Linked DNA regions of Homo sapiens: region 2 is linked to region 1. The links come from fine-mapping of genetic effects on gene expression. A gene starts in region 1. The other region holds a variant in brackets. All regions are shown on one strand. Distances are from middle to middle.

Region 1 (16,168 bases):
ATTACAGGCATGAGCCACCATGCCCGGCCAATTTTTGTGTTTTTAGTAGAGACATGGTTTCACCATGTTGGCCAGGATGGTCTCGATCTCTTGACTTCCTGATCTGCCCGCCTCGGCCTCCTAAAATGCTGGGATTACAGGCGTGAGCCACCGTGCCCGGCCTAATTTTTGTGTTATTAGTAGAGACAGGGTTTCACCATGTTGGCCAGGCTGGTCTCGAACTCCTGACCACAGATGATCCACCCGCCTTGGCCTTCCAAAGTGCTGGGATTACAGGCATGAGCCACCAGGCCTGGCCATGTAAGTGTTTTCAACATCAGACTTTGTTTTAATCTCTGCTGAGCAACAGACTCATATTTAATGCTGTAGTGTTTATAGGCATTTGGAAAGCTTTCATGTATTTCAAAGGCCTTCATTGTACAAAAACATGTTGAGAAAGGCACTGTCCTGAATCACCAAAGGGCGCTTATAGTTTGGTGGCAGATAAGAAGTCATTAAAATATAATTAGATAATTACAAAAATAGTGGCAATCCAGGAGAGAATGTACCTATCAGGACAAGAGTTGTGGCAATCCAGGAGAGAATGTACCTATCAGGACAAGAGTTGACCTTAAGTCAACTCTTCAAAGATAAGCAGTAGTTGATCTTAGGAAACACTAAGCAGAAAACATTAAAGGCAGGCTGGGTGCGGTGGCTCACACCTGTAATCCCAGCACTTTCGGAGGCTGAGGTGGGCAGATCACGAGGTTAGAAGATCGAGACCATCCTGGCTAACACGGTGAAACCCCGTCTCTACTAAAAGTACAAAAAATTAGCTGGGCGTGGTGGCAGGCACCTGTAGTCCCAGCTACTCAGGAGGCTGAGGGAGGAGAATGGTGTGAACCTGGGAGGCAGAGCTTGCAGTGCGCTGAGATCGCACCACTGCACTCCAGCCTGGGCGACAGTGCAAGACTCTGTCTCAAAAAAAAAAAAAGACATTAAAGGCAAAGAGTTAACTCCTGCAAGGACACAGAAACACAAATGAGTATGACATGTTCAGGGTACTTACTACATGTGGTTCAAAATTGTTTCACTCATTCATTCATTTGTTCATTCATGTTGGATTCAAAGTCAGCTGGATCATTTGAGGTTATGTCAGATCATGAAGGGCTTCAAGATTATTATTATTATTATTATTATTATTATTATTATTATTATTTTCTTTTTTGAGACAGAGTCTTGCTGTTGCCTAGGCTGGAGTGCAGTGGCATGATCTCGGCTCACTGCAACCTTCTCCTCCTGGGCTCAAGCAATTCTCCCGCCTCAGCCTCCTGAGTAGCTGGGATTACAGGTATGTGCCATCACAACCAGCTAATTTTTGTATTTTTGTAGAGATGGCGTTTCACCCTGTTGGCCAGTCTGGTCTTGAAGTCCTGACTTCAGGCAATCCACCCGCCTTGGCCTCCCAAAGTGCTGGGATTACAGGTGTGAGCCACTGCACCCGGCCCAAGATTATTTCTTGGAGACCGCTCTAGCAACAATATGGAAAACTGATTAGAGGTGAATAAGAAGAGAAATCATGATATCTAAATAAAGAAAGAGTAAGGAGGCTGGGCACTGTGGCTCACACCTGTAATTCCAGCACTTTGGGAGGCTGAGGCGGGTGGATCACCTGAGGTCAGGAGTTTGAGATCAGCCTGGCCAACTGGTGAAACCCCGTCTCTACTAAAAATACAAAAAATTAGCCGGGCGTGGTGGCGGGCGCCTGTAATCCCAGCTACTTGGGAGGCTGAGGCAGGCAGGAGAATTGCTTGAACCCGGGAGGTAGAGGTTGCAGTGAGCCGAGATCATGCCACTGCACTCCAGCCTGGGGGACAGAGTGAGACTCTGTAAATAAACAAACAAACAAACAAATAAAGAGTAAGGAGTTGGAGACCTGCCTGGACCTGGCATTTGAATGGATGGGGGTGTGAATATGTCGACCTAAAAGGAAGAGGCTGAGGCACAAAATATAAAGAGTTTACTTGAGCCCAAGTGAGGACAGCTGCCCAGAAGACTCAGACACAAGTAACCTTGGAGATGAGCTCCATCCAGGCTTTGTTACAAGTAGGGTTTTGTTTAAGGTAAAAGAGGGGGACAGGGAGCAGTCTGATGCAAAATTGTTTGTCAGGAATTCTCATTGGTTTACACACATAACATTGATTAGTGATTGGCTATACATTGTTAAACTACAGTGTGCGGATTATTTGTGTCCAGTGCATCATTTTTAGGTTACTTTATAGCTACTTGTGGCAATTGCAGGCAGTTTCAGGAGAAGAATACATAGCTTGTAAGGGAGGAGTAGGACATGATTGGGGTCTCATTTGAATGTCTTTCTGGGCCTGACAGTTTAAAGGACTTGCATTTCTCAGATAAAAGTTTTTCTTTTCTCAAAGGACAAGAAGGAATTCATTCATTCATTTCACAAGTTGAATTTAACAAATGTTAAATGAGAATTCTTAGATTTGCCTGAGCAAAAGGGGAGCTCGTGGTGTCATCTGCAACGTCTGTGAATACAGGGAGTGGATAAAGTTTGAGAGGTAATATATTCATTTCAGATTTGGATATGCTGAATTTGAGATGTTCGTGGTACACCCTGGCGTAAATGTGTATTAAGTTCTATGTATATCATTCTGGCATTTAAGATAAACATTTGTCATCTGTGTATAATACGCGGTTGTTGAAGTCATGACCTAGATGTTGCCTAGAAAGAGTCATAGGTGAGGCCGGGCGTGGTGGCTCACGCCTGTAATCCCAGCGCTTTGGGAGGCTGAGGCGGGCGGATCATGAGGTCAGGAGTTCGAGACCAGCCTGGCCAACATAGTGAAACCCCATCGCTACTAAAAATACAGAAATTAGCCAGGCGTGGTGGCACGGGTCTGTAGTCCCAGCTACTTGGGAGGCTGAGACGGGAGAACTGCTTGAAACCGGGAAGCAGTGGTTGCAGTGAGCCAAGATGGTGCCAACATACTCCAGCCTGGGCCACAGAACGAGACTCTGCCTCAAAAATAATAATAATAAAATAACCAAAAGCAGTGGACATGGTGGCGCACGCCTGTAGTCCCAGCTACTCTGGGAGGCTGAGGTGGGAGAATCGCTTGAACCCGGAAGTTCAAGTGAGCTGAGATCGCCCCACTGCACTCCAGCCTCGGCGACAGAGTGAGACTCTGTCTCAAAAAAAAAAAAAAAAAAAGAAAGAAAGAGTCATAGGCTCTTTTTTTTCTTTTCTTTTTCTTTTTTCTTTTTTTTTTTGGATGGAGTTTAGCTCTTATTTCCCAGGCTGGAGTGCAATGGTGCGATCTGGGCTCACCACAATCTCTGCCTCCCAGGTTCAAGCGATTCTCCTGCTTCAGCCTCCCGAGTAGCTGGGATTACAGTCGTGCACCACTACACCCAGCTAATTTTTTATTTTTAGTAGAGACAGGGCTTCACCATGTTGGCCAGGCTGGTCTTGAACTCCTGACCTCAAGCAATCCACCCGCCTCGGCCTCCCAAAGTGCTGGGATTACAGGCGTGAGCCACTAAGCCTTGCAATGAGAGTCATTGACTCTTATCGCATGGCAGAGTGGATACCCTGGGGGAAATATTGGCCTTTAAGCAGTAGGGAAAAGAAGAGTTTCCTTCAAGTGTTTAGAGAACTATCATGGAAACCATGAAGGATGGAACAGTTAATGGATTAAGCAATGCAGAGGAGAAATAACTAGAAACTAACTGAAGGCAACAAAAATAAGCTCATTGGTTACCATAATAAGAGAAGTTTTAGCTGAGAAAAGGTGGCAGGAGTCAGGAAGTAAGAATAGAAAGTATCCGAGAGGCCAGGTGTGGTATTGGCTCATCCCTGTAATCCCAGCTACTTGGGAGGCTGAGGCGGAAAAATTGCTGAGTCCAGGAGTTCAAGACCATCACAACAAAATTTAACAACTTTTCCTTTAATCCAACTCCTCTTCCTGTGGTCTCTTACCGCCGTTATTCCTAGTGAGACAGGAATAATACAGGCTGGTGGCAGAAGAATAGAAAATGTTGGCTGGGCTGGGCGTGGTGGCTCACGCCTGTAATCCCAGAATTTTGGGAGGCCGAGGCGGGCAGATCACTTGAGGTCAGGAGTTCGAGACCAACCTGGCCAACATGGTGAAACCTCATCTCTACTAAAAACACAAAAATTAGCCAGGTGTGGTGGCATTCACCTATTGTCCCAGCTACTTGGGAGGTTGAGGCAGGAGAATCGCTTGAGCCCGGGAGGCAGAGGGTGCAGTGAGCTGAGATCGCACCACTGTACTCCAGCCTGGGCAACAAAGCAAGACTCTGTCAAGAAAAAAAAAAACCCACAACAAAAACAATAAAACATAATCACACACCCACCAACCCCCTGACGGTTCCAGGAACAAATTTGGTATAAAAATGGGTGGCACCACATTTCTGAAAAATCCAGGAATTTTTCCAGGAATCTTCATGAATATCCCACCCTTTGGTTAAAGAAACCCAGAAAGGTAGAAATCCCAAACTCTATTGGGCGACTACTCTTTGAGTACACCTGCGCTCCCCTTTCTTCAGTGTGTACTTTTCACCTTGCAATAAGTCTCCGTACTTTCACTATTTTCTGACTCATCCTTGAATTCCTTCCTGCAATATCTAGAGCCTACACACTGGCTGGGGTTGTGGTCCCACTGGTATCACATTCAACCTCCTAAACCAGAAACTCTCCAAACACCTAGTGCCTCCCCTCTGACTAACATCTTTGTCTAAGGATATTAAGTGACACTAAATCCTCTAGATTCTACTTCTTTAACATTTTTTAATATCCCAGGAGGATAAATCCCAATATTACAATTATCTATGGATGGTGGTATTGTTACAGAAGGTAGCTAATCAGACATGAGAGGGCAGGAGAGGGCCTCTCCACTTCACCAGGAATGTCAGGTGACCATCAGTTGTTGGTCAGGTGGCCATTAAACTGCCTTCCTAAAACAATAATTGGTCGCAGCTGGCACCAGGGAAAGGCAGTCTCCCAACAAATAGAAAAAACCCTGAAACTGATGATTGGCAGCTTCTCGGTAACATCTCCGGCTCAAGTATGCACACTAAGAAGCAAAATGGCAGAATTTAAGTTGTGTATGACCTTCCTCTAGGAACACTGGACTGGTAAAGGAAAAACTGCCTCATGTGAGCATGTGTGCTATGGGGAAAAGAGAGATCAGATTGTTACTGTGTCTGCGTAGAAAGAAGTAGACATAAGAGACTCCATTTTGTTCTGTACTAAGAAAAATTCTTCTGCCTTGAGATGCTGTTAATCTGTAACCCTACCCCCAACCCTGTGCTCCCTAAGACATGTGCTGTGTCAACTCAGGGTTTAGTGGATCAAGGGCTGTGCAGGGTGTGCTTTGTTAAACAAATGCTTGAAGGCAGCATGCTTGTTAAGAGTCATCACCACTCCCTAATCTCAAGTACCCAGAGACACAATACCTCTGCCTAGGAAAACCAGATATTGTCCAAGGTTTCTCCCCATGTGATAGTCTGAAATACGGCCTCATGGGAAGGGAAAGACCTGATCGTCCCCCAGCCCGACACCCGTAAAGGGTCTGTGCTGAGGAGGATTAGTAAAAGAGGAAGGAACGCCTCTTTGCAGTTGAGATAAGAGGAAGGCTTCTGTCTCCTGCTGGTCCCTGGGCAATGGAATGTCTCGGTGTAAAGCCGATTGTATATTCCATCTACTGAGATAGGGGAAAACCACCTTAGGGCTGGAGTCGGGACATGCTGGCAGCAATACTGCTCCTTAAGGCATTGAAATGTTTATGTATATGCACATCAAAAGCACAGCACTTTTTTCTTTAGCTTGTTTATGATGCAGAGACATTTGTTCACGTGTTTACCTTCTGACCTTCTCTCCACTATTATCCTATTATCCTGCCACACCCGATAATGATCAATAAATACTAAGGGAACTCAGAGGCTGGTGCCGGCGTGGATCCTCCACATGCTGAACGCCAGTCCCCTGGGCCCCTTTTTCTTTCTCTATACTTGGTCTCTGTGTCTCTTTCTTTTCCAAGTCTCTCGTTCCACCTAATGAGAAATGCCCACAGGTGTGGAGGGGCAACCCACCCCTTCATGTGCAACTTCAGTAAAGACATTGTGCATGTAACCCCTCCCAAGTGCTGGCAGGCCACTGCACATGTGGACAGCCCATCCCAAGGGAAGAATCAGGGGAGAAATAACCCTGGGCCAATGTATAAGACCCCAAGTAAAGGTCAAACCGTGCACTTGATCTCTTAAGTCACCTGTTGGTCCTCTTCCAAGTGTACTTTGCTTCTTTTTATTCCTTCTCTAAAGCTTTTTAATAAACTTTCACTCCTCTAAGACTTGCCTTGGTTTCTCACTCTGCCTTATGCCCTTCGGTCGAATTCTTCTGAGGAAGCAAGAATTGAGGTTGCTACAGACCCGTACGGATTTGCTGCTGCTAACATATTAGACATGATTTTAATGTTTTTGTTTTTTCGAGGCAGGGTCTGGCTCTGTCACCCAGGCTACAGTGCGATGGCATGATCTTGGCCCACTGCAACCTCCACCTCCTGGGCTCAAGCCATTCTCCCACCTCAGCCTCCTGAGTAGGTGGGATTGCAGGCACCTGCCACCATGCCCGGCTTTTTTGTATTGTTTGTAGAGACAGGGTTTCACCATGTTGCTTAGGCTGGTCTCAAACCCCTGAGCCCAATCAATCCGCCCTCCTCAGCCTCCGAAAGTGCTGGGATCACAGGCATGACCCACCCTGCCTGGACTTAATGTTTTTCTGTCTGATAATTTGCTTTTTCAATATTTGTCTGGAGGCTGGGGCGTGGTGGCTCACGGCTGTAATCCCAGCACTGGGAGGCCGAGGTGGGCAGATCACCTGAGGTCGGGAGTTCGAGACCAGCCTGATCAACATGGAGAAACCCCCCTCTACTAAAAATACAAAATTAGCCGGGCGTGGTAGCACATGTCTGTAATCCCAGCTACTTGGGAGGCTGAGGCAGGAAAATCGCTTGAACTGGGAGGCGGAGGTTTCCGCGAGCCAAGATCATGCCATTGCACTCCAGCGTGGCAATAAGAGTGAAACTCCATCTCAAAAAAAAAAAAAATTTTGTCTGGAATGACTATGTATATATTCATGTAATTAAAGTAATAAAAGTTTAGAGATAGTTCTTCTCATACATAATCTTATATCTGGTATCTTCTTTTTGTCTCCAGTACACTATGCTAGGTCAGGCCAGGATTATTGCAGTAATCTCCTAACTTCTCTTTCTGCTGTTGATTTGGCACACTTCCATAAGGCGGTCAGAATAAGCTTTGAAAATTCAAATCTTTTTTTTGAGACGGAGTTTCACACTTGTTGCCCTGGCTGGAGTGCAATGGCACGATCCCAGCTCACTGGAACCTCTACCTCCCTGGTTCAAGCGATTCTCCTACCTCAGCCTCCCGGGTAGCTGGGATTACAGGCGCCCGCTGCCACGCCCAGCTTTTTTTTTTTTTTTTTTTTTTTTTTTTTTTTTTTTGAGATGGAGTCCTGCTCTGTCACCCAGGCTGGAGTGCAGTGTCGCGATCTCGGCTCAGTGCAAGCTCTGCCTCCTGGGTTCACACCATTCTCCTGCCTCAGCCTCCTGAGTAGCTGGGATTACAGGCGCCTGCCACCACGCCCGGATAATTCTTTGTATTTTTAGTAGAGACGGGGTTTCACCATATTAGCCAGGATGGTCTTGATCTCCCCACCTCGTGATCCGCCCACCTCGGCCTCCCAAAGTGCTGGGATTACAGGCGTGAGCCACCACACCCGGCCACACCCAGCTAATTTTTTGTACTTTTAGTAGAGACGGGTTTTCAAACTGGTCTTGAACTCCTGACCTCAGGTGATCCAACCATCTCAGCCTCCCAAAGTGCTGGGATTACAGGGGTGAGCCAATGTGCCCGGCCAAAAATACAAATCTTACTAAGTCCCTCTCTGGTTAAATATCTTTGAGGATTAAGTTCAAACTTTTAGCAGTTTGTGATAAGGTCCTGGTCTCATATCTTTCGTAGCATTTCTTTCCATTCTCCCACCCTTTGCTTGAAGCTTTTTTTCTAATATAAGCAGTAGCTTCTAGCCTTTGCAAAAGCTATTTTCTCTGCTTTCAACTTTGTTAATTCCTATTCATCCTCTAAAAATCAGTTTTAATCCTGCTTCCTGGGAGACTTTACAGCCCCACTGTAATTTAGATATTCCTCTCTTCTGCTATTGCAATCTGCGCACCCCTCAGTCACTCTTATCACACTGCACTGAGGTTGTTCATCTTTTCCTAATTTTTTGGAATTTCCTAAGTTTTGGAGTTGGCTTTCCCACTGCGCACTCAGATGTCTTAAGCACATTTAATTTTTTCTTCTGTGTGTTGATAATTCATATTCTTTGCCCATTTTTCTGTTGAGTTGTGCTTTCCTTACTGATTTGTAGTAATTCTTATGTGTCAAATACTTCTCAGTGTTTGTTTTTAGTTTTTGTTGTACTTCAATTTTTAATGTTTGCATAGTAAAATATATAAAATGTTTTCTTTTTTTTTTTTTTGACTTGAACTCCCGACCTCAAGGTGATCCGCCCACCTTGGTCTCCCAAAGTGCTGAAATTACAGGTGTAAGCCATGGCACCTGGCCCATAAATATAATTTCCTAAGATTGAAAATTTATTCGGCTGGGCACCATCTCAAAAAAAAAAATTATTCAACAAATTCATTGAATGGCCACTTAGGTATTGGCACTCTGTCAGCTACCGGGGATACAATGGTGATCAAAAAGACAAAGCCCAGCTGGGAGCCATAGCATGGAGCCTGTAGTCCCAGCTACTCAGAGGGCTGATGCTTGAGGATCCCTTGAGTCCAGAAGTTCAGATCCAGCCTGGACAATATAGTGAGATTCCCATCACTTAAAAAAACAAAAAACAAAAAGACAAAGCCCCTGCCTTAAAGCTTATATTCTAAAGGTGGAGGCAGACAATAAACAAGTAAACAAATAGTTCACAGAATTAATTGCTTTTAATGACTATGAAGGAAATAAAATGGGAGCCAGAAGTAGGCAAAGGATGTGTACATAAAACAGTTCAATTGAATGGGTTTCCCATAATTTACTTAACCATTTTTATTTAGTGTTGGATTTTTATATTGCTTTTAGTTTTTCACTGTTATACTAATACAGAGGAATTATTTATGTTTATTTTCATGGAATAATTTCCTACAAATGTAATTACTGAATAGAAACAATCAGGATTTTTTTTTTTTTTTTTTGGGACGGAGTCTTGCTTTGTGGTCTATGCTGGAGTGCAGCGGTGCAATTTCTCACCGCAACCTCAGCCTCCGGGGTTCAAGCGATTCTCCTGACTCACACTCTCGAGTAGCTGGGATTACAAGCCATCATGTCCAGCTCATTTTTGTATTTTTAGCAGAGACGGGGTCTCATCTCACCATTTTGGCCAGTCTGGCCTCACACTCCTGGTCTCAAATGATCCGCCCGCCTTGGCCTCCCAAAGTGTTGGGATTACAGGCTTGAGCCACCGCGACCGGCCTCTAAGTTGCTTTCAAGAGGTAACCACGGTGAGTAAGCTGAATGTGCTCTGAGGGGTAGAAGCAGAAAAAGTTACCTGTGGAAAAGGCATGTTTCCGCTTAGCTTAGGGATAAGCTAAATGTAGAGCTGACTTGGGTTTAGTAGTAAGGGGCAGCAGCTAATGCAAAACCGTTAGCTTTGGGAACAGGACAACCTGGATTCTAAGCCCATTTTTGCCATCCTGTGATCTTCACAGGTTGTACGTAGCCCTCTCTGAGCCTTAGTTTCCTGAAATTCAGGTAGGTTTTGCTCAACCTTTGTATTTCCCACCATCTTTTAGATCAAGCACTCTCTGGCGCCTCCAAATTGAAGACAGCAGCTGCGGAATTGATGTAATGGGCTGAATCAGCCTCAGCCGCGAAATGCCGACTAATCACAGGCACCTCCGGCGGCCTGGACAAAAGGTTTGAAGTCCCTGGGACCGCACTTCCGGGTAATTAAGGCTACGCTTTAGACGCCAGGGCCAGCGAGTCGCAGCCGGGTGACTCGAGTGCCGCGACTGCGCATGCTCTCGCCCCAGCGCCCGGCGGCCACCTCTTTCCCGCGGGCGGGCCGGGGCGGGGCACTGAAGGGGGCGGTCCAGGACCCTGACTTGTCTCGCGGTTACTGGGCCGGCGCGAGCACGCGAGGCTCGGGGGCGGCACGGGGCGGGGTTTAGCCTGTGGTGGGCGCTGCGGGTGTTTGCAGGAGGTTGCAGTACTCGCTGGGCTGAGGTCGTCTCGGGTGAGGAGGTCGCGCCGGAAGTGGCTCTAGCCGTGGCGCTTCGGCGTAGTAAGGAGCCTGCAACAGAGTTTTGTTGTTTAGGGGGCGCGGCACCGCACCGCTCCCTTCACCTTGCAGCAGCCATGGCGAAAGGCAGAGTCGCCGAACGATCGCAGTTGGGCGCTCACCACACGACCCCCGTGGGGGACGGGGCAGCGGGGACGCGGGGTCTCGCGGCGCCTGGCAGCAGAGACCACCAGAAGGGTGAGTGGGCCCGGGGAGCAGAGCTGGGGGTGGCCCGAGGCTTCTGTGTGTCGGGTGGGGAAAAGGACCCCCGCTATTCTCGGAGAGTCGCGGGGAAAGAGGGGGGCCTGCTGGCGCCGCGGCGGGAGCAGAGACCGTGGGGGAGTTGGGCTTGGGCGCTCGCGCAGCACAAGGCCGGACGCCGAGTAGGTGCGTTGTAAATGCTGTTTGAGTAGAATTCATTTAAAAGAAGGGATGACACTGGCTTGTTGACGCTCAGGTAGATTGTAAGGTTGATGATAACGACGCTAGGCAGAGCTGGAAGGAGCTGTACTGTGGCATTCGCTGCGTTGTTTTTACAGATGAAGAAACTGAGGCCCAGTGTGGGTATATGACTTATAAAGTCATAAAGCCAGATCAGTGAAGTAGTAGTTAGGAGCGAGGACTTAATACTTCCAGGTGGCAGTACACCTGGGCTTGAGTCCCTGCCCTACTGTTTACTTGGAACCTTGGACTTGGTAACTTTCAAAAAAAGCTCAGTGTCTGAACTGTGAAATGGGGATAATAATAATATCTACTTAATAGGTGGTGCGTGGGTTAAACGAAATAATTCACGTAAAAGATTTAGAGCAATGCTTGGATATGAAGTGGGGGCTAAATAAATATTAGCAATTACTTAGTTACAGCTAAGGTCACTCATTCTAAAGTTTATTTCCCCACTACATCATCCTGACATTTCTCACGGCTTTATTTTTGGTTTTTGTTTTCTCTTTATTCCTACTGCCTCTATAATTGCAGAATCTCACGGCTTTAAATATTGTTTTAAGGAAAAAACTGTACGTAGAAACTAAATACTTTGATTCCGTGTTGGCCTGGAATCGTTCTTTAAATGATTTTAAAGCTCATAAACTTAAAGTGATCCTAACAAGTTTGTCTGTAGCTCACATAGGTGTGTTCCACCACCAGTGATGGCTAGGAGAACTTCTAAGAGTATGTAGTAGAAAATGTTAATGTATTTTCAAATAATTTAAAATGTCTCCAACAGTCTAATTTGGCTCTGTCAGCCTTATGTTTTTGGGTATTTTTCCAGCTTATATACACTGGATCCAGGTGACTTCATATAATTTCAAAAACTGAGAAATGAATCGTTGTTAATGTATAAATCAGCTCTGAATAAAAGAAAGATTGTTTTGAAGACTCTACTACTGAGGGTGACAATATTCCAAGGTCTGGGTTTCCTGAAAAAGTGTTCCAGATAGGGCATCCCTAAAAATTGACATCTCATTTGAGGTAGCAGCCAGTTGTATTCATGATTTTTACCTAAAGCTATTCAAAAAATAAAACCTTGAAACTTCCAAAGTGCTCTTACTTTTTAATCTTATTTTATCATTACAACAAAACATTCAACACAATTATTCTTTTTTTTTTTTTTTTTTTTGAGACGGAGTCTCGGTCTGTCACCCAGGCTGGAGTGCAGTGGCGCAATCTTGGCTCACTGCAAGCTCCGCCTCCTGGGTTCACGCCATTCTCCTGCCTCAGCCTCCCGAGTAGCTGGGACTACAGGCGCCCACCACCACGCCGGGCTAATTTTTGTATTTTTAGTAGAGATGGGGTTTCACCTTGTTAGCCAGGATGGTCTCGATCTCCTGACCTGTTGATCCGCCCGCCTCGGCCTCCCAAAGTGCTGGGATTACAGGCGTGAGCCACCACGCCTGGCCTACAATTATTCTTATGATGCTGTCCCATGACATCTATAGATCACAAATCTATAGGAAGACAGGGAAGAGATGTGAAGGCGTGCCTTCACTTCATGATGAAGTAAGGCCTGTTTTTAGTGACTTGAGACAAGGCCTCGCTGTGTCACCTATGCTGGAGTGCAGTGGCATGATCATAGCTTGCTGCAGCCTCAGCTACCTGGGCTCATGCGATCTTCCCACCTCAGCCCCCTCAAATAGCTGACTACAGGTGTGTGCCACCATGCTCAGCTAATTATTTGTTTTTTGTAGAGAAGGGGCCAGGGTGTCTTGAAGTCCTGGGCTCAAGCGTCTTCCTGCCTTGGCCTCCCCAAATGCTGGAATTACAGGCATGAGCCATTGTGCTTTGCCAGATAAGTAAGGTTTGGATAAGTAAAGAGAAGGGAAGGGTATTCCAGGCTAGGAGAAAGAGAGTAGTAGGGTTGAAGGTTAGTGTGAAACTTTTATGTGTGTGGGTAGGGAGATTAATTTGTCAGGAGCAGAGGGTTTCTGTTGGGTGGTAGTAGGCGATGAGGTTGGCCTGTTCAGGATGTGTCAGAATGTTCCTGTAAATTCCATGATACTTGGAAATGAATTTGTATTCTATTAAGTGACACATATATAACTTTGACAAATAAGTAGTTATCATCATATGTATGTTTGAACTGTTTTACATGCTATCTGCAATGTTTGGTACATTTAGTGGATTCCTTGCCATTACTCTGGCCTCTAGTCTCAGAGCTAAGCCTAGTAGACTGTGGACCACTTTGACTACTTGAGTAAGGCAGAGGTAACACGGAAAGTCTAATTTTTGCATGATGAAGATGAGAGAGCAGACAGGAGGTGAAACTAGTTAAGAAGCTCTTGAGAATGCATCAAGCCCAGGCAGCAGTGGAAAGGCTGGAGGACACACCTAAACATGTGGAATCCCAGTGCCAGGCAGCCAGGGCCAAATCCATATCCACCCAACATTGGGTGCCCTGGAGGTTCCAATCCTGCCCACTCACCACCTATCAACCCACCCTTTCCCCCAGGCCCCTGTCCTCCTCCCCCAGGAGCTCCGCAAGGCAATTCAGCTTTCCCCCCAGGTTGGCCCCCTCATCCTGTGCCACAGCCAGGGTATCCAGGATGCCAATCCTCGGGTCCCTACCCTCCTCCATACCCACCGTCTGCTCCTGGAATGCCTCCTGTGAGTCCCTTGGCTCCTGGCATGGTTGGACCAGCAGTGATAGTGGGCAAGAAGATACAGAAGAAAATGAAGAAAGCTCATAAAAAGATGCACAAGCATAGCAAGCATTCCTCCTCCTCTTCCAGCAGTGATTCTGACTGAATACAGGCCCTGGGTCCTTCCCTCAAGTCTCACCAGTTCTGCTCTCCTATCAAGCTTCAGATGCCATGTTGTATTGGGGGAAAGTAGCCCTTGTGCTCCCCACACCCTACCCCCGCCTGAGCTTCACCCTGCTGTTGAGCCCTGAGTGGCTAGGGAAAATGGGAAGAGAATTGGCATGGCCTGGCCATCTTGTTGTTGCTTGGATAGATCATATAGCTAATGAGTTTAGCAGGGGAGCTGTTTTTTGAAGATGATGAACTAAATGTTGAAGACAAGTTTGAGATCTGTAAAATGTGATTTTTTACTTCTGCTTATAATACTCATGATTGGGGAGGATTGTGGAAATTTAATTATGATGAAAAACCTCTATCTTTTTTGTAATGTTGGCATACTTGGGGAATTTAGTGGAAAATACATTCCCCAGCAGGCCTTTTGTTGGTTGCACTAACTGCAAGGTTGCTGGGAAGTAGAGTCTGTTTGGTCGATGAGCTTTGACTGCCATTTTGGAACCTTACCTCTCCTCCTTAGCCCAGTATGCTATCTCAGGTCCTATTCTTGTTCTCCAGCTCTCAGTCCAAATAAAGTTATTTCTCCTGGTTAAAAAAAAAAAAAAAAAAAAAAAAGGGCTCTTAACCTAATCGGTTTGAAGGTGACTGGACTAGAGTACATAACTTTTTTGGTGGTGTTTGCCCCGACCTATGTATTTACTAGCAAGTTCTCCATTTTAACTTAAGAGAGCTGGACTATGTTTTTCAATATATAAGTCATGACCCTTGTGAGGGGTGTGAAATCAATTTGATGGATAATCAATAATAAGCATTTTTTTAAAAAAAATGGAATAGAAGAGAAAATATCAGTGCTTTGGGATTAAATGCTGGTTTTTTTTTGTTTAATCTTTCCTTGAGTTATATAGATTTTGTGTATACCGGGTCATGTACATTACTTAGGCTGACATGGTGGCTCATGCCTGTAATCCCAGCACTTTGGGAGGCCGAGGCGGGCGGAACATGAGGTCAGGAGTTCAAGACCAGCCTGACTAACATGAAGAAGCCCTGTCTCTACTAAAAATACAAAAATTAGCTGGGCATGGTGGTGCACACCTGTAATCCCAGCTACTTGGGAGGCTGAGGCAGGAGAATCACTTGAACCCAGGAGGTGGAGTTTGCAGTGAGCCAAGATAGCGCCACTGCACTCCAGTCTGGGTGATAGAGTGAGACTCCATCTCAAAAAAAAATAATAATAATAATAATACATTACTTGGAACACAATCAAAAAAGATTGAAAAACACTGTCTCAAAGTTGATTTTATTGCTTCTAGAAAACAATATTTTTTTTTGTTCTTTTGTTTTTTTTTTTGAGATGGAGTCTTGCTCTGTCACCCAGGCTGGAGTGCAGTGGTGCGATCTTGGCTCACTTGCAACCTCCCCTTCCCGGGTTCACGCCATTCTCCTGCCTCAGCCTCCCAAGTAGCTGGGACTACAGGCACCCACCACCACGCCTGGCTAATTTTTTGTATTTTTAGTAGAGATGGGGTTTCACCATGTTAGCCAGGATGGTCTCGATCTCCTGACCTTGTGATCTGCCTGCCTCAGCCTCCCAAAGTGCTGGGATTACAGGTGTAAGCCACTGCGCCTGGCTGACAATATTGTTCTGACTTGGATAATCCAGATCCCTGGTCTAGATCCTGCCTTGCTATTTGTTTAACAAATACTCCTCAGGTGTCTACTATGAGCAAAGTACTGGCTTACAGAAAGAAGGAAGCTCTGATTACTGTAGATGAAATCTAAGACTAGACTTGGCAGCTGAATATCAACCAAAGCATTAGTATGGTTTGCTGATGTCAGTCTCAACCCAGGTATTATGTATCAGAATTTTTTTGGTCTACGACAGAAAACCCACTGGAACCCTTGCTGAAAGGGAGCTTATTGGTCCATGTAAGTAAATCAAGTAATGAGTAGGATTTGGTGGCATCAGGCTGGAGCCAGTTGCTCAGCATCTTCAGGATCAGATTTTTCTTTCTTTCTTTTTTTTTGAAATGGAGTTTCACTCTTTTTGCCCAGGCTGGAGTGCAATGGTGCGATCTTGGCTCACCACAACCTCCACCTCCCAGATTCAAGCGATTCTCCGCCTCAGCCTCCCCAGTAGCCGGGATTACAGGCACACGTCACCACGCCCAGCTAATTTTGTATTTTTAGTAGAGACGGGTTATCTCTGTGTTGGCCAGGCTGGTCTTGAACTCCTGACCTCCAGTAATTCACCCGCCTTGGCCTCCCAAAGTGCTGGGATTATAGGTGTTAGCCCCACGCCCGGCCAGGATCAGATTTTTCATATCTTGATTTGCTTATTTGATGTCAGCTTAACCTTAAGTTTGGTTCCCCTTGAAGCTTCAGGTAAGCTAAATGCTTCCATGTTAATTTTGAGAATCTTTGTCCTAGTATTACGGATGAAGTCTTGCTATTCACTGATTAGATTGCCTCAGATCAGATGCTTTTTCCTGAACCTATCATTATTGTCAGTAGGTCATCAGAGTAACCTGATTGGCTCAGCCTG
Region 2 (16,168 bases), 28 kb after region 1:
TGGTGGCGGGCGCCCGTAGTCCCAGCTACTTGGGAGGCCGAGGCAGGAGAATGGCGTGAACCTGGGAGGCGGAGCTTGCAGTGGGCCGAGATCACGCCACTGCACTCCAACCTGGGCGACAGAGCAGGACTCTATCTAAAAAAAACAACAACTAGCAGAGCATAGTGGCACGTGCCTGCAGTCCCAGCTACTCAGTAGTCTGAGGTGGGAGGATCACTTGAACCTAGGAGATGGAGGTAATATTGAGCTATGATCGTGCCATTGCACTCCATCCAGCCTGGGTGACAGAGCATGGGAGCCTGCCTATAGAACAAACAAAAAAAAAGAAATGATCATAATATGCATGAAACACAAAGGTGATTATTCGAGGCTTTCCTAAGCAAGAAATCATTCAGTTCCAAACAAAGTGCCAAATATAGAGTAAAAGTACTGGAAAACTTGCAGTTTTTTGTGGACTTTGATCTGTGGTATTCAAGAAAATGTTTGAACTGTGAATTTGTTACATTTTTACTTAATTTTCATTGTAAATTATTATTTAGTTTATCATCAGGATTACCCAAAATGATGTTAAATGTTTTTAATTTACTAACATCAGTGGTTCTTTTTTTCTTTCTTTCTTTTTTTTTTTTTTTTTTTTGAGACGGAGTCTCTGTTGCCCAGGCTGGAGGCTCACTGCAGCCTCTGCCTCCCGGGTTCAAGTGATTGTCCTGCCCCAGCCTCCTGAGTAGCTGGGATTACAGGCATGCACCACCATGCCCAGCTAATTTTTGTATTTTTAGTAGAGACGGGGTTTCAACACGTTTGCCAGGCTGGTCTCGAACTCCTCATGTCAGGCGATCCACCCGCCTCGGCTTCCCAAAGTGCTGGGGTTACAGGCGTGAGCCACCATGTGCCTGGCCAGTGGTTCATTTCTTATATTCAAGTTAAAATTTGTTTCGATGTTGGAACAAATGCCTTTAACCCTTGGTTTGCGTCATCCAGAGCCTTCATATATAAATTACCTGTCTCTGATTCTGCTGAGACATTAAAAAGAAAAAATTGCCTGTCTCATGAAATTATATTAAAGCATTAAAAAATAATTTATAGCCGGGCATGGTGGCTTACTCCTGTAATCCCAGCACGTTGGGAGGCCAAGGCGGGTGGATCACCTAAGGTCAGGAATTTGAGACCAGCCTGGCCAACATGGTGAAACCCCGTCTCTACTAAAAATACAAAAATTAGTCAGGCATGGTGGGACGTGCCTGTAATCCCAGCTACTTGGGAGACTGAGGCAGGAAACTCACCTGAATCCAGGAGGTGGAGGTTGCACTGAGCCGAGATCGCGCCAATGCACTCCAGCCTGGGCAACAGAGTGAGACTGTGTCAAAAAAAATAATAAAAATAAAATGAAATTAATAATAATTTATAGGCCAGGTGCGGTTGCTCACTCCTGTAATCCCAGCACTTTGGGAGGCCGAGGCAGGAGGATCATTTGAGCACAGGAGTTTGAGACCAGCCTGGCAACATGGTGAAACTCCCTCTCTACTAAAAATACAAAAGTTAGCTGGGCATGGTGGTGCACGCCTGTGATCCCAGCTTCTCAGAAGGCTGAGGCAGGAGAATCGTTTGTACCTGGGAGGCAGAGATTGCCGTGAGCTGAGATTCCACCACTGCACTGCAGCCTGGGCAACAGAGCAAGACTCTATGTCTCAAAACAAAAGAAAAATTATAAACTTTTAAACTTAAACATTGCTAATTTAGACTTAATAGATCAAGGCATGAAATCATTTTGGATAAAACTTCATGTTGTGAACTTGACTTTGATATTATCTTGGCAAAATTCTGTTCTAAAATTTTTCACTTTATTTCTTCAGAGAAGAAAGAGTGAATATGAAGGTTCCCAGAGATATGGATGATGCCAAGGCTCTAGGAAAAGTTTTATCCAAATACAAGGACACCTTTTATGTTCAAGTACTTGTAGCTTATTTTGCTACATATATTTTGTATCCTTTTAACTGAAAAAATGTTTTCTAATTTTGTTCAAGAAAAAGTGTAAAAGGTCTGCTCTTCATTTATACATAACTATTTTCCTTTTAAAATTTGTTATTGCAGTGTGACAATATTAAATAATTGAAAAATTAAAATGGAAAAAAATTATCACTTTAATCCTATTTGCTGAACTAATTGTTTTTATGTCTGAATATTTATTAGAAGTTCTTTTGTATTCTGCTTTTTTCACTTACCAAACATTTTCCTTTATTGCATATTATTAAGATGTTTATTTTATGGGTTTGATTTATAATTGTATTCATTAACTGATGATACTAGTTTATATAATTATTTTGAATTAGTAGTCACCATAGTATTTTTATAATTGTTCTGTTAGGTTTGGAGGTATAATTTGTTGTTAATTTTTATAGATATGTATTATGAATCTCCTTTGTTCATGTTTTTTTCTTGCATTGTTTCTTTTGTAAAAATTCTTAAGATACTTATTCAAAGGAATGAATGTTTTTTACAATTTTTGATATATATTTTATAGAAATATATTACATTTTAACTAGTCAGGAAAATAGCTTTATTTCAAACTGCTTAGCTGTGGGTGCTTAATTTTGCATATTGTGGAGTTTAATTTTCATTTCTGATTTGTTAATATCTTTTATTCTTATCCAAACTGTTTTCCAGATCTTCTCAGTTAATGAAAGACGTAATTTACTTCTTGATGTTGTAAAAGTAATCATCCTTTTTAAACCAACTTTTTTTTTTTTTTTTTGAGATGGAGTTTTGCTCTTGTTACACAGGCTGGAGGCACAATCTCTGGTCACTGCAACCTCCACCTCCTAGGTTCAAGCGATTCTCCAGTCTCAGCCTCCCAAGTAGCTGGGATTGCAGGCGCCTGCCGCCATACTTGGTTAATTTTTGTATTTTCAGTAGAGACGGAGTTTCACCATGTTGGCCAGGGTCGTCTGGAACCCCTGACCTCAGGTGATCTGCCCATCTCAGCCTCCCAAAGTGCTGGGATTACAGGTGAGAGCCACTGTGCCCGGCTTTTTTTTTTTTTTTTTTTTTTTTTTTTTTTTTGAGACAGGTTCTCCCCCTGTCACCCAGGCTGGAGTGCAGTGGCATGATCATGGCTCACTGCAGCCTCAGCCTCCTGGGCTCAAGTGATCCTCCCACCTCAGCCTCCCGAGTAGCTGGAACCACAGGCACACCCAGTTAAATTTGGGATTTATTTGTAGATGCCAGGTTTTGCTATGTTGTCTGGGCTGGTGTTGAACTCCTGAGCTCCTCAGCCTCCCAAAGTGCTGGGATTTCAGTCATGAGCCGCCACGCCTGACAACACTGGGATATTATATAGCTATTTAAAAAGAATCAGAAGTAGCCAGGTATGGTGGCTCATGCCTGCAACACCAGCACTTTGGGAGCCCGAGGCGGGTGAATCACGTGAGGTCAGGGGTTCAGACCAGCCTGGCCAACATAGTGAAACGCCATCTTTACTAAAAATACAAAAATTAGCTGGGCGTGGTGATTGCATGCCTGTAATCCCAACTACTCAGGAGGCTGAGGCAGGAGGATCACCTGAACCCAGGAGGTGGAGGTTGCAGTGAGCTGAGATCGTGCCACTGCACTCCAGCCTTGGTGACAGCAAGATTCCATCCCCAAAAAATAAAAATAACAAAAATAAAAAGAATCAGAAGTATCCATATGTTGTTGAGGTATTAACTCACAATATACAGATAAGTGAAAGAACAAAGGGCAAAATAGTACACAAATATGCTGTGTTTTATCTAAGAAGGGGATAATATGAGTACACTCATATACATAAGTATCTTGTTATATTTTTCTTAAAAAACTAATTGGCCGGGTGTAGTGGCTCATTCCTGTAATCCCAGCACTTTGGGAGGCTTCAGCAGGAGGATTGCGTGAGGCCAGTGGTTCGAGACTGGCTTGGGCAATGTAGCTAGACCCAGTTTCTACGAGAAATACAAAAATTAGCTGGATGTCTTGGTACATGCCTGTAGTCCTAGCTACTTGGGAGGCTGAGGTGGGAAGATCACCTGAGCCCAGGGAAGTTGAGGCTACAGCGAAGCATTTAGCCTCTGCACTCCAGCCTAGGTGACAGTGAGACTGTATCTCAAATAAATAAACCAGTAAAAATGTTTACCTGTAGGGAGAGAGATAAAATGGTAGGACTGAAACTTTTCTTAGCGTAGGTTTGACTTGAGAACCAAGTAAATGTTTTACATAATTACAAAATCAAAATGAAAAAAGAGAATAGCAGGAATCTTAAGAATCAAAAGCAACCTCACACTCATTAGGATGGCTATCATGAAAATAACAAGTGTTGGCAAGGATGTGGAGAAATTGGAACTCTTGAGCACTGTTGGTGGGAATGCAAAATGATGCAGCTACTATGGAAAATAGTATGGCAGTTCCTCAAAAATTAAGAATAGTATTATCAGGGCCGGGTGTGGTGGCTCACACCTATAATCCCAGCACTTTGGGAGACCGAGGCAGGCTGATCACCTGAGTTTGGGAGTTCAAGACCAGCCTGACCAACATGAAGAAATCCCGTCTCTTCATGTATTTTTTTGTAGCGATGGGATTTCATCATGTTGCCCAGGCTGGTCTCGAACTGGAACTCTTGGGCTCAAGTGATCCTCCCACCTCAGCCTCCCAAGGTGCTGGGATTACAGGTGTGAGTCACCAGGCCTAGCCAAAAATCTTAAAACTGTTTTTAGTCATCATATTGTTAGTAGTAATAATGTTGTAAAATATTTAAATATGTGGAAACGTTTTAGATTATTAATACTAATGCATAGTATATATTTTATACATTTACTTTATGTTTCATAGTATATAAAGCACAAATAGGCAACTATGTTGGTGTTATCAAGAACCAAGATTTTTCAGTGTAAGAGAAGAGAAATCTAAACAAAGTTAAGCTCAAGTCACATTCCCATTTAAAAGGAAGCATAGTTTTGACTACTAGTATAAGATAAAGGATAGAACATAAACTACCCTAAGTATCCAATAGGCAAAATTCAATAAATGGTAAATTCTACAAATGATCTGGTTTCTTCAGTAAATTGAAAGAAAGAAAAAATAAAGACCCTATGCTTAAGTGATCCTTTGAGCAAATACTTTGTGTGGACTTCTAGATTCTGATCAGACTAGTCTTTAGGACAATAAGGAATTATAGTTAATTTCTTGAAGTCTGACAATGGTATCATATTTATGTTAAAAAGAAAAGGAGGCCAGGCACGGTGGCTAACACCTATAATTCCAGTACTTTGGGAGGCCGAGGCAGGTGGATCACGAGGTCTGGAGTTCAAGACCAACCTGACCAAGATGGTGAAACCCTGTCTCTACTAAAAATACAAAAATTAGCCAGTTATGGTGGCAGGCGTCTGTGATTCCAACTACTTGGGAGGCTGAGGCAGAGAATTGCTTGAACCTGGGATGCGGAGAATGCAGTGAGCTGAGATCACGCCACTGCCCTCCAGCCTGGACGACAGAGCGAGACTCCTACCACAAAAACGAAAGGAAAAAAAAAGGAATTGGCCGGGCGTGGTGGCCACACCTGTAATCCCAGCACTTTGGGAGGCCAAGCGGGGTGGATCACGAGATCGGGAGATGGAGACTATCCTGGCCAACATGGTGAAACCTGTCTGTACTAAAAATAAAAAAAATTAGCTGGGCGCGATGGCACACGCTTGTAATCCAAGCTACTCGGGAGGCTGAGGCAGGAGAATCGCTTGAACCTGGGAGGCAGGGGTTGCAGTGAGCCAAGATCATGCCACTGCACTCCAGCCTGGCGACAGAGCGAGACTCAGTCTCAAAAAAAAATTTATTTTTATTATTATTATAATTTTTTTGAGATGGGAGTCTCACTCTGTTTCCCAGGCTGGAGTGTAGCGACGCGATCTCGGCCCACTGCAACCTCCGCTGCCCGAGTTCAAGCAATTCTCCTGCTTCAGCTTGCCAAGTAGCTGAGATTACAGGCACCTGCCACTGCGCCCGGCTAATTTTTTGTATTCTTTGAACTCCTGACCTCATGATCCACCTGCCTTGGCCTCCCAAAGTGTTGGGATTTACAGGTATGAGCCACCGCGCCCAGCCTTATTTTTATTTTTATTTTTTTTGAGACAGAGTCTCACTCTATTTCCCAGGCCAGAGGTCAGTGGCATGATCTCGGCTCACTACAACGTCTGCCCTCTGGGTTCAAGAGATTCTCGTTTCCCAGCCTCCTGAGTACCTGGCATTACAGGCATGAGCCACTGTGACTGGCCAATTTTTGTATTTTTATTAAAGACAGGGTTTCATCGTGTTGGCCAGGCTGTTCTTCAACTCCTAGTCTCAAGTGATCCACCCTCAGCTGCCTAAAGTATTGGGATTACAGGCGGGAGCCACGGTGCCCAGCCTGAAATATGTTAATATAGGGCATCATAACACTAGTTTCTCTACTTTGTTTTTTTTTCCCCAATTTCAGCTGTAATTTTAGGTTTCCTTTTCAGAGAAGTAGGAATTGCACCAAATTTTGGGAAAGGAAAAAATACAGTTGCGTTAAACAACAAAAACAACAAAACACTTCCTGGGAACTTGTCCTCATTTATTTCTGCTTCTCTCAATTTCCTCAAGGGAAAATTTCCATTTATCTCCTTTCATCCTTTGGAGTCTTGCTTTCTTTTCTTTCTTTTTTTTTTTTATTATTATACTTTAAGTTCTGGGGTACATGTGCACAGCGTGCAGGTTTGTTACATACGTATATGTGTGCCACGTTGGTTTGCTGTACCCATCAACTTGTCATTTACATTGAGTATTTCTACATTTACATATGTGTGAAACTATCCATAATATGATGTTTTGTTTTGTTTTGTTTTTGAGATGGAGTCTTGCTCTGTTGCCAGGCTGGCTTGCAGTGGCGAGATCTCGGCTCACTGCAATCTCCTGCTTCCTGGGTTCAAGCGATTCCCCTGCCTTGGCTTCCCGAGTAGCTGGGACTACAGGTGCCCACCACCACGCCCGGCTAGTTTTTTGTATTTTAGTAGAGACGGTTTCACCATGTTGGCCAGGATGGTCTCGATCTCCTGACTTTGTGATCCGCCTGCCTCAGACTCCCTAAGTGCTGGGATTACAGGCATGAGCCACCCCACCCGGTCCATATAGTACAATCTTAACCCAAAAAGTGTGTGTGTTTGTGTGTGTGTGTGTGTGTGTGTTTTGTTTTTGACAGAGACATGTAGGAGACAGGTGGAAAATTTGAGGCTGATGAACCAAAGAGAATTTCGAGTTTTTAGTACTATATGTGGTTGATACTTGAAGCCATGGAAATTGCCAAATTTATCAAAGAAAAGGGATTGTGTGGCCAACAGAATGTTAGAGAAATTTCAAGAGTTGAGGGCAAAGAGAAAAATCTAGAGAAGAAATTACCTGTAATGTAGAAGAAAAAGTACAGTTCACTGAAGCCATGTTTCATGCAGGATGAAGTCTAATCCTATGCAGGGATCACTGAAAGGTGACTATTGAGAAAAAGTTATTATTGGCTGTGAGGAAGTTTCAATAGCATAGTGGAATAGTAAAGCAGGTCACAGGGAACGAGGAGAGAATCTCCTCTGAGGAAGTGAAGATGAGCGGTAGCTGGATAGGATACCCTGGTTGAGGTTGTTTTTTAAGTTATAGACAACTGAGTAGTTTTGTAGAGGAGGCATCCTGTGAAAGAGAACAGAGTTGAAGGTGAAAAAACCCAGGAGGAAGGAGGAGGAGATTGAAATGAGAACATGAGTAAAATGGGAACTAGAGAAAAAGGAATAGTTAATGAGTGAGGATAGATGGAGAGATGTTGAGGGAATTCACTTTGACTTGTGAGTAAATCATATTAGAGGGGAAAAAGGTTCAGATCCAAACTGGGAACGACAGGAAAGTAAAAAAAAAAAAAAATCTATTTTAAAAACAAGATTTGTGGCCCGGGTGTAGTCGCTCATATCTGTAACCTCAACACTTTGGGAGTCCATTGTGGGAGGATCGTTTGAGCCCAGGAGTTCAAGACTAGCCTGGGCAACTCAGCCAGACCTCATCTCTACAAATAATAAAAATTGGTGTGGTGACACACGTCCGTGATCCCAACTACTTGCAAGGCTGAAGTGGGAGAATTGCTTGAGCTTGGGCATTTGAGGCTGCAGTGAGCCATGAGTGCGCCACTGCGTTCCAGCCTGGGTGACAAAGCAAGACCCCTTCTCAAATAAGATTTGTGACTTTTACTATATTTTGTAATTTCTATTCTTATTTTTCTTATTTTCTTTTATTCTCTTGTAGTTCCTATTCCTTTAAAATGAGTAGTGAATTTAGGTAAACCTTCATAGTTAAATTAGAAATAATTGTATGTACATGATTTCCCTGAAAACATTTGGGAGTAAAATAAAATGTATTAGAGAAGCACTAAAAGATTACGGAAGACCTTTTCTTTTTTCTTTTGTTCCTCCCCCAAAGTGCCCGGTTCCTCTCTATCTAGAACATACGGTTTTTTGTCTTGGAAACCTTTTAGTAGCACACACTTACTAGTATTTATGATACTGTTTAGTAAATGGTCAACTTAGAGGCTAGACCTTTGGATATAATCTCATTGTATGATAATTTTTGTATTTATACTTTTTTCCTGAAATGTTACATTTGTCTTTTAAAATTCTACTTAATTATATTCTAATCC[T/C]TAACTTAAAAGTTACCAGCTTGCAAACATTTGCTATTCCAGGCTCTATATTTCTCAGTATACTCTCAGGGTTTCTTTATCCCTTTCCACTAGCCTTATTTCTTGTTTGTTTGGTAAGTATGAAAAAATAAAATTGGGAGACTGAAAAAACAATAGAATGATGAGGATGATGATGATACTTTAACCCTACTAGTCTATGTAAGCATAAACTCATTAATTGAAGAGGAGTTAATGTTAAAGTCCCTCCACAAGGAGGTGTTATAATTTGTTTTTCCCCCAGAACAGACCAATTATAGACTTAGTTGCATTTATAAGCTATGTTTTAGCTTTTCTTTCCTATTGGATTTTGTAACTGCGACAGTCCAAGGAGTGTTGGTGAGCACAATGAGTTAAGTCCCAGAGCCAGAGGTGGTGTTTTCAAGCTTAGGAACTGGGGGGGTCGGGGGTAGGGTCGGGGGGAGGTGGAAATTGGCTCCTGAAATTTTATTCTTAGGCTAAAGCCTAGCATTAATTATTTGGATATAGTCACTAGGTGTAATCACAAGTGCCAGTTTGTTTTAGCTGATCTCATTTGAGGTACATTTTGGTCTGAGAAAGTACTAGATCATCTCTGCACAAGAGATGTCATGCAGAGTACCCTCCCCACCTCTGAAAGAAGTAAATTAATTGAGCTTTTTACTCAGGTGAATAAATCAATGTGAGTAAGACGGAAAAATACAAAACGCTTATGGCTTCTTTTGTTTTCCAGTGTTCTGGACTTGGTGCCTCTTTCTGTTATATGCTTTCCTATTTAGTTGGGAGACCAGTTGTATACAAATACCTAACAGAGAAAGCAGTAAAATGGTCACAGCAGGTAAACATGTATTTTTAAATTATTTGATGTAACTCTTTGTTAATTGGAAGGTCTGTGTTTAGTCCCTACATGAATTAACTACATGTATTAACCCAACATAAATTAATTCCTAAGTTAACTCAAGTAATAAGAATTATCTTCTGACCAAATAAAAATGGGTGGTAGGCAAATATGAATGTTAATAATTTCAAATACAAATGTTTCAGACCTGTGATGGTAATTTTAATTCTTTATCTTAGTAAATTTAATCAGCAGAGAAGTCAGTGTGAATATAAAGGCATCCACATAATTAGATACCTATCTGTTTTATGTTAATGCAGTATTGTGTGCATCTGTTATGGAAACACTTGTATCAGCCAACTCCCAGTGCATTTTTTTCTTTTCTTTTTTTGAGACGGAGTCTTACTCTGTCACCCAGGCTGGAGTGCAGTGGCATGACCTCGGCTCACTGCAACCTCTGCCTCCTCGGTTCAAGCATTTCTCCTGCCTGCCTCAGCCTCCCAAGTAGCTGGGATTATAGGTACATGCCACCACGCCTGGCTAATTTTTTGTATTTTTAGTAGAGACAGGGTTTTACCATGTTGGCCAGGCTGGTCTCGAACTCCAGACCTCAGGTGACCCACCTGCCTCAACCTCCCAAAGTGCTGGGATTATAGGCATGAGTCACCACTGGCCTTTTTTGATGATTTCTTTTCTTTTTTGAGTCAGAGTTTCGCTCTTGTTGCCCAAGCTGAAGTGCAGTGGCGTGATCTTGGCTCATTGCAACCTCTGCCTCCCGGGTTCAAGCGATTCTCCTGCCTCAGCCTCCCAAGTAGCTAGGATTTCAGGCACATGCCACCATGCCCGGCTAATTTTTTGTATTTTTAGTAGAAACGGGTTTCACCATGTTAGCCAGGCTGTTCTCGAACTCCTGACCTCAGGTGATCCGCCTGCCTCAGCCTCCCAAAGTGCTGGGATTACAGGCATGAACCACCTCGCCAGCCTGATCATTTCTATTGGGTATACTCTGAAGTATCAGGAATGAGAATTTGAAATAAGGTGTTTATATTAAGCAACTTATTTTGAAGTTGTCCTCATCTGATGCTAATTCTTTTCTTTCTTATGACAGGTTGAACGTCATAGAGAACATCTCATTAACTACATTATATTTTTGAGAATAACACCATTTCTGCCTAATTGGTTTATTAATATCACATCTCCTGTGATAAACGTGCCATTGAAAGTTTTTTTTATTGGTACTTTTCTAGGTAAGCCCTCTGGTTCTTGCTGTGTATGAGCTCACTGTGTACATATCTAACAGTGTCCAGCTGGGCTAGATTACATGCATGCTCTCTGCAGATTATGCCAGCACCATCTAGAATTCTTGGGCACAAAGCCTGGCTGTATAAATAGATGCTCAGAAGTGTTTGTTGAATTGTGTTGATTTAGGTTATTTTTGTGTCGCCTCTTTAAAGAAGAACACTTTCTACTGTATATCGTTTTAATGATATAGGGTTAAGCAGGACTTCCAGTCCCTCTAAGTGGAGAGGAAAAAAAATCAAATTGCCTTTTTTGAGCAATTTTCTCCTATGTCCCTTCCCCTTCCTCTTCCCTGAGTCTCGATCTGTCGCCCAGGCTGGAGTACAGTGGCATGATCTCGGCTCACTGCAATCTCCGCCTCCCGGGTTCAAGCGATTCTCCTGCCTCAGCCTCCCAAGGAGCTGGTACTGCAGGCACACGCCACCACGTCTGGCTAATTTTTGTATTATTAGTAGAAATGGGGTTTCACCATGTTGGCCAGGCTGGTCTCGAATTCCTGTCCTCATGGTCCACCTACCTCAGCCTCCCAAAGTGCTGGGATTATAGGCGTGAGCCACCGCACCCAGCCCTTTCTTTTTTTTTTTTTTTTTGTAAATGTTGCTTTGGCAAAATAGCTCCTTTGTTTTCTAATCAAGTATTAAAATGTTGAACTTGAATTTTCAGTAGAGAATTGATCCTATTTTTCCTTTTACTGAAACCAGCTTTTATCGCGGATGTTATCAAAAGTATGGAAAAAGCAAGGATCAACAAACTTTCTTGCTTTTAAGGAAATAATACTTGATTTTGAAATTAATCAGTGGACATGAAAATTACTTACATATTTTGTGAATTCTCATGATTCTTTGTAGGAATGTTTTGCTCTTCTTTCCAGTTCGAGTTGAATTGTTTAGAAGTCAAAAATACGAGCAGATTTCTTACATATTGAATACCTATTAAAGCTTAAGTTAATACTTGTGAGAATATGTCTTTTTGAAAAGAATAACCAAAATCAATTATTTATTGCTACTTTAAAAAAAAATTAGCCGGGCGCGGTGGTTCACGCCTATAATCCCAGCACTTTGGTAGGCCAAGGCGGGTGGATCACAAGGTCAAGAGTTCGAGACCAGCCTGGCCAATATGGTAAAACCCTGTCTCTACTAAAAATTCAAAAATTAGCTGAATGTGGTGGCAGGTGCCTGTAGTCTCAGCTACTCAGGAGGCTGAGGCAGGAGAATCACTTGAACCCAGGAGGCAGAGGTTGCAGTGAACCGAGATTGTGCCACTGCACTCCGGCCTGGGCGACAGCAAGACACTGTCTCAAAAAAAAAAAAAAAAGAAAGAAGGAAAGAATGAAAAGAAAAGAAAAAAAAATGGACAAACTTACATCAGCATGGGGAATTTTTAATTTTGTTAAATGTCATATCCATGGAATCTAAAGAGAGAATTTTTGTTTCTATCTCCATTTTATAGGTGAAAGCCAGAGATTTAGTTAATTTCAGCTTTGGCCAAAGTAATTTATTTCCCTTTGTTTTGATTTTTAGTGAAATGTCATCATTCTCTATGTACTTTTGTATACACTGCTCTCTTTACTCACACTTTGAGTATCTTGACCTTGAAATTGCTAGAACAGAGCACGTTTCTTTCTTTTTTTTTCTCTTTTTGAGACAGATTCTCTCTCTGTCGCCCAGGCTGGAGTGCAGTGGCGTGATCTCAGCTCATTGCAACCTCCGCCTCCTGGGTTCAAGTGATTCTTTTGCCTCAGCCTCCCAAGTAGCTGGGATTACAGGTGTGCGCCAACACACCCAGCTAATTTTTGTATTTTTAGTAGAGATGGAGCTTCATCATGTTGGCCAGGCTGGTCTCAAACTCCTGACCTCAGGTGATCTGCCTGCCTTGGCCTCCCAGGGTGCTGGGATTACACGTATGAGCCACTGTGCCGGGCCTGTTTTTTTTTCTTTTAAGGTTTTTGATAGTCTGGGTGTGGTGGCTCACACTTGTAATCCCAGCACTTTGGGAGGCTGAGGCGTGTGAATTGCCTGAGCCTGGGAGTTACAGAGACCAGCCTGGGCAATATGGCAAAACCCCCTCTCTTGACAAAAAATTCAAAAATTTTGCCTGGGTGTGGTGGTACACGCCTGTAGTCCCAGCTGCTCAGAAAGCTGAGGTGGGACAATCACCTGAGCCTCGAGAGACTGAGGCTGCAATGAGTGATGATTGCACCACTGCACTCAAGCCTGTGCGATAGAGTCAAACTCTCGGGGGGAGAAAACAAAAGCATTTTTGATAAATGTAAAACTATTTTCTGGGCCCTTTTCTTGCGTTTTTAAAATTCATTATTCTGGCCAGGTGCAGGGGCTCATGCCTGTAATCCCAGCACTTTGGGAGGCTGAGGTGGGCGGATCATCTGAGGTCGGGAGTTTGAGACCATTCTGACCAACATGGAGAAACCCCATCTCTACTGAAAATACAAAATTAGCCGGGTGTGGTGGCACATGCCTGTAATCCCAGCTACTCGGGAGGCTGAGGCAGGAGAATTGTTTGAACCCGGGAGGCGGAGGTTGCAGTGAGCCAAGATCGCGCCATCGTGTTCCAGCGGGGGCAACAAGAGCGAAACTCCGTCTCAAAAAAAAAAAAAATCATTATCCTTAAGAGGTGATTAGGAAAGATTGAATTCTTTATATGGAAATAAACTTGAGCTTTAAATTCTTAATTTTTTTTCCAAAATGGAAATAGCTGTGTTGTTTTAAGAAACTTTATGCACACAGAACATTTTAATTTTTTAAAAACAATTGCGGTGGTTTTTACTGTATCTTTTTATATTTTATTTCAGGTGTCGCACCTCCTTCTTTTGTAGCCATTAAGGCAGGAACAACACTGTATCAACTTACAACAGCAGGAGAAGCTGTTTCCTGGAACTCAATATTTATTCTGATGATCTTGGCTGTTCTTTCTATTCTGCCAGCCATCTTCCAAAAAAAACTAAAGCAGAAATTTGAGTAAAAATAATCATCTGATTTTTAGTTTTGCTGTCATCACCATCTCAGGATTAACAGGTGCATCCATTTATGTTTTAAAATCACCTCTTCAGTAATTAAACAAGGAATTTGTAAAATAAAATTTCCTATCAGATAGTTAAAGTAATACATTTAAGTGACAAGGGGAGAAGAAAGTAAAAATGGAAATTGGTATACTGTGAAAAGTGCTATCAATAGTTAAGGTAGACATCTTAGACATCTTATAAATTATTATACCAAGGGTAGCTGTAGATAATAGTAGTGTGGTAGGAAATTGTTGATCCAGCTAATTCATTCAATTTAATTGAATATTTTTTATCTTTAATAACTAAAATAGATATTTTTAAATTCTAGATTTTTTAAAGTAGTGTTGCAGGTTTTGTTAATGTTAGGCTTTTTTCAGAGCATAAACTGGAAAACTTAAAAAGAGATTTACATTTTCTTCCTCTTTTTTTTTTTTTTTTTTTTTCTGTTTTGAGACGGAGTCTAGCTCTGCCGCCCAGGCTGGAGTGCAGTGGCGCGATCTCCACTCACTGCAAGCTCCACCTCCTGGGTTCACGCCATTCTCCTGTCTCAGCCTCCTGAGTAGCTGGGACTACAGGCGCCCGCCACCATGCCCAGCTAATTTTTTTGTATTTTTAGTAGAGACGGGGTTTCACCGTGTTAGCCAGGATGGTCTCGATCTCCTGACCTCGTGATCTGCCCGCCTTGGCCTCCCAAAGTGCTGGGATTACAGGCGTGAGCCACCGCGCCTGGCCCATTTTCTTCCTCTTTTGAGGTAATGGATTTGTTTGGAGATGGCATGTTAGTAGACGACTGAATATGGAAAGGATATCAAGTTATCTATTTTGTTAATTTTATTTTTGTTTTTTATCATCTAGATTTTTATCATGGATTAGTCTGAAATTTAAAGTTCTGGCCAGTCGGTTTTCTTTCATCTTGTAGTTTTTACAGTATTTCCACTGTGCATATGCAAAATGGGTATTACATAACTGTATCATATTTGGTATTGATAATTTTTTTTTTTTTTGAGACGGAGTCTTGCTGTTGCCCAGGCTGGAGTGGAGTGCGTGGTGTGATCTCGGCTCACTGCAAACTCCGCCTCCTGGGTTCAAGCGATTCTCCTGGCCCAGCCTCCTGAGTAGCTGGGATTACAGGTGTGTGCCACCGTGCCCAGCTAATTTTTGTGTTTTTAGTAGAGACGGGGTTTCACCATGTTGGCCGGGCTGGTCTTGAACTCCTGACCTCAGGCTATATGCCCACTTCCACCTCCCAAAGTGCTGGGATTACAGGCATGAGCCACTGTGCCCAGCCTGGTATTGATAATTTATATTCAGATAATTTGTTATGGCTCTTTAATATCCCACAAGGGGCTCTAAAAAGCAAACATTCAAGAGTATGTAGTTTTTAGACATTAAGTTAATTATTTTAAACAGTGACAGCAAAACACAAGTGATTAAATATAGTTTATTTGTTCCAATGACTAAATTTTACCTCATTTATTAATCTGGTCATTAAGGAATATATTTAATAATATTATGTAATTATTCTTTTTATGCATGATACACCTAGAAAAATGCCTTTTGTTTCTATTGATGGCTTTGTTGTTTGGAGCTACTTTTGATTACTTATTGCAGTTTCCCAATTTAGTCTTTACTTTATCTAACTCACAAAGTAAAATTAACTGATCACATGGCAACTACTGTATTTAAATAGTTCTGGAAAAATGAAAGTGCTTTTTGCTGCTTGGTAAATGGGTAATGCCCTTGATTCCTTGACTGTAGGACATAGCTGATCTAAAGTACTCTGTCAGTTTTACCTTCACCCATGACTGTTATTAGTTGTCAAAGTTGAAAAGTACTTTAGCTGTGAGAAATCCTTGTATGTTTTTATTATAAGAGGTATAATCATCCTCAAAGCCTGTTTTTATTACATGATGTGGACTGATTATTTTTTCTATCACAGTGTTAACAGATGGATTTTATTGTAAATACAAAGAAAACATATTGATTATTGTAGTATTCTTATGTCACCTGGCCTTTTGCGTGAGATTATTTATTATTTCTAGCAAGGCTTTCTTCCTTTCTTATTGCCCAGAGACTGACTGATACATCTTTTGTTATTTTTACACATAAATTAAACATAGCCTTTTTGGACAAATTCACTAAATATTAATGTATAAAATGTAATTGAGTAAATTTTTATCAGAATTTTAAAAATAAAAGAGCTTAGACTCAGTAGAACTCAGTAGAAGCTTCACTATTTACTCCAGCGTGTGTAAATTGTACTTACTCTATTCTCAGAGTATATTTACTGTCCTTACCATTGATTCTTTCC

What was found. PIP is the estimated chance that this variant, and not a neighbour inherited with it, causes the effect.
Region 2: its variant is fine-mapped to the expression of TMEM41B in whole blood (TOPMed, PIP above 0.99).

Annotation. Positions count from the first base shown.
Region 1 is chr11:9,308,729-9,324,896 of GRCh38, reverse strand. TMEM41B (transmembrane protein 41B) reads left to right here and starts at 10,304. Exons shown (of 7, transcript NM_015012.4): 1 at 10,304-10,576. The coding sequence starts at 10,456. It also overlaps the pseudogene PRR13P2. RefSeq lists enhancers at 4,497-5,473, 5,474-6,450, 10,080-10,595, 10,596-11,113 and a silencer at 9,965-10,314.
Region 2 is chr11:9,281,073-9,297,240 of GRCh38, reverse strand. TMEM41B (transmembrane protein 41B) reads left to right here. Exons shown (of 7, transcript NM_015012.4): 3 at 1,854-1,982; 4 at 8,706-8,799; 5 at 9,435-9,539; 6 at 10,648-10,786; 7 at 13,648-16,168. The coding sequence ends at 13,817. Among named protein-coding and RNA genes, the nearest start is that of TRL-CAA5-1, 14 kb to the right of the region's middle. The variant T/C (reference allele first, on the strand shown) is at 8,687.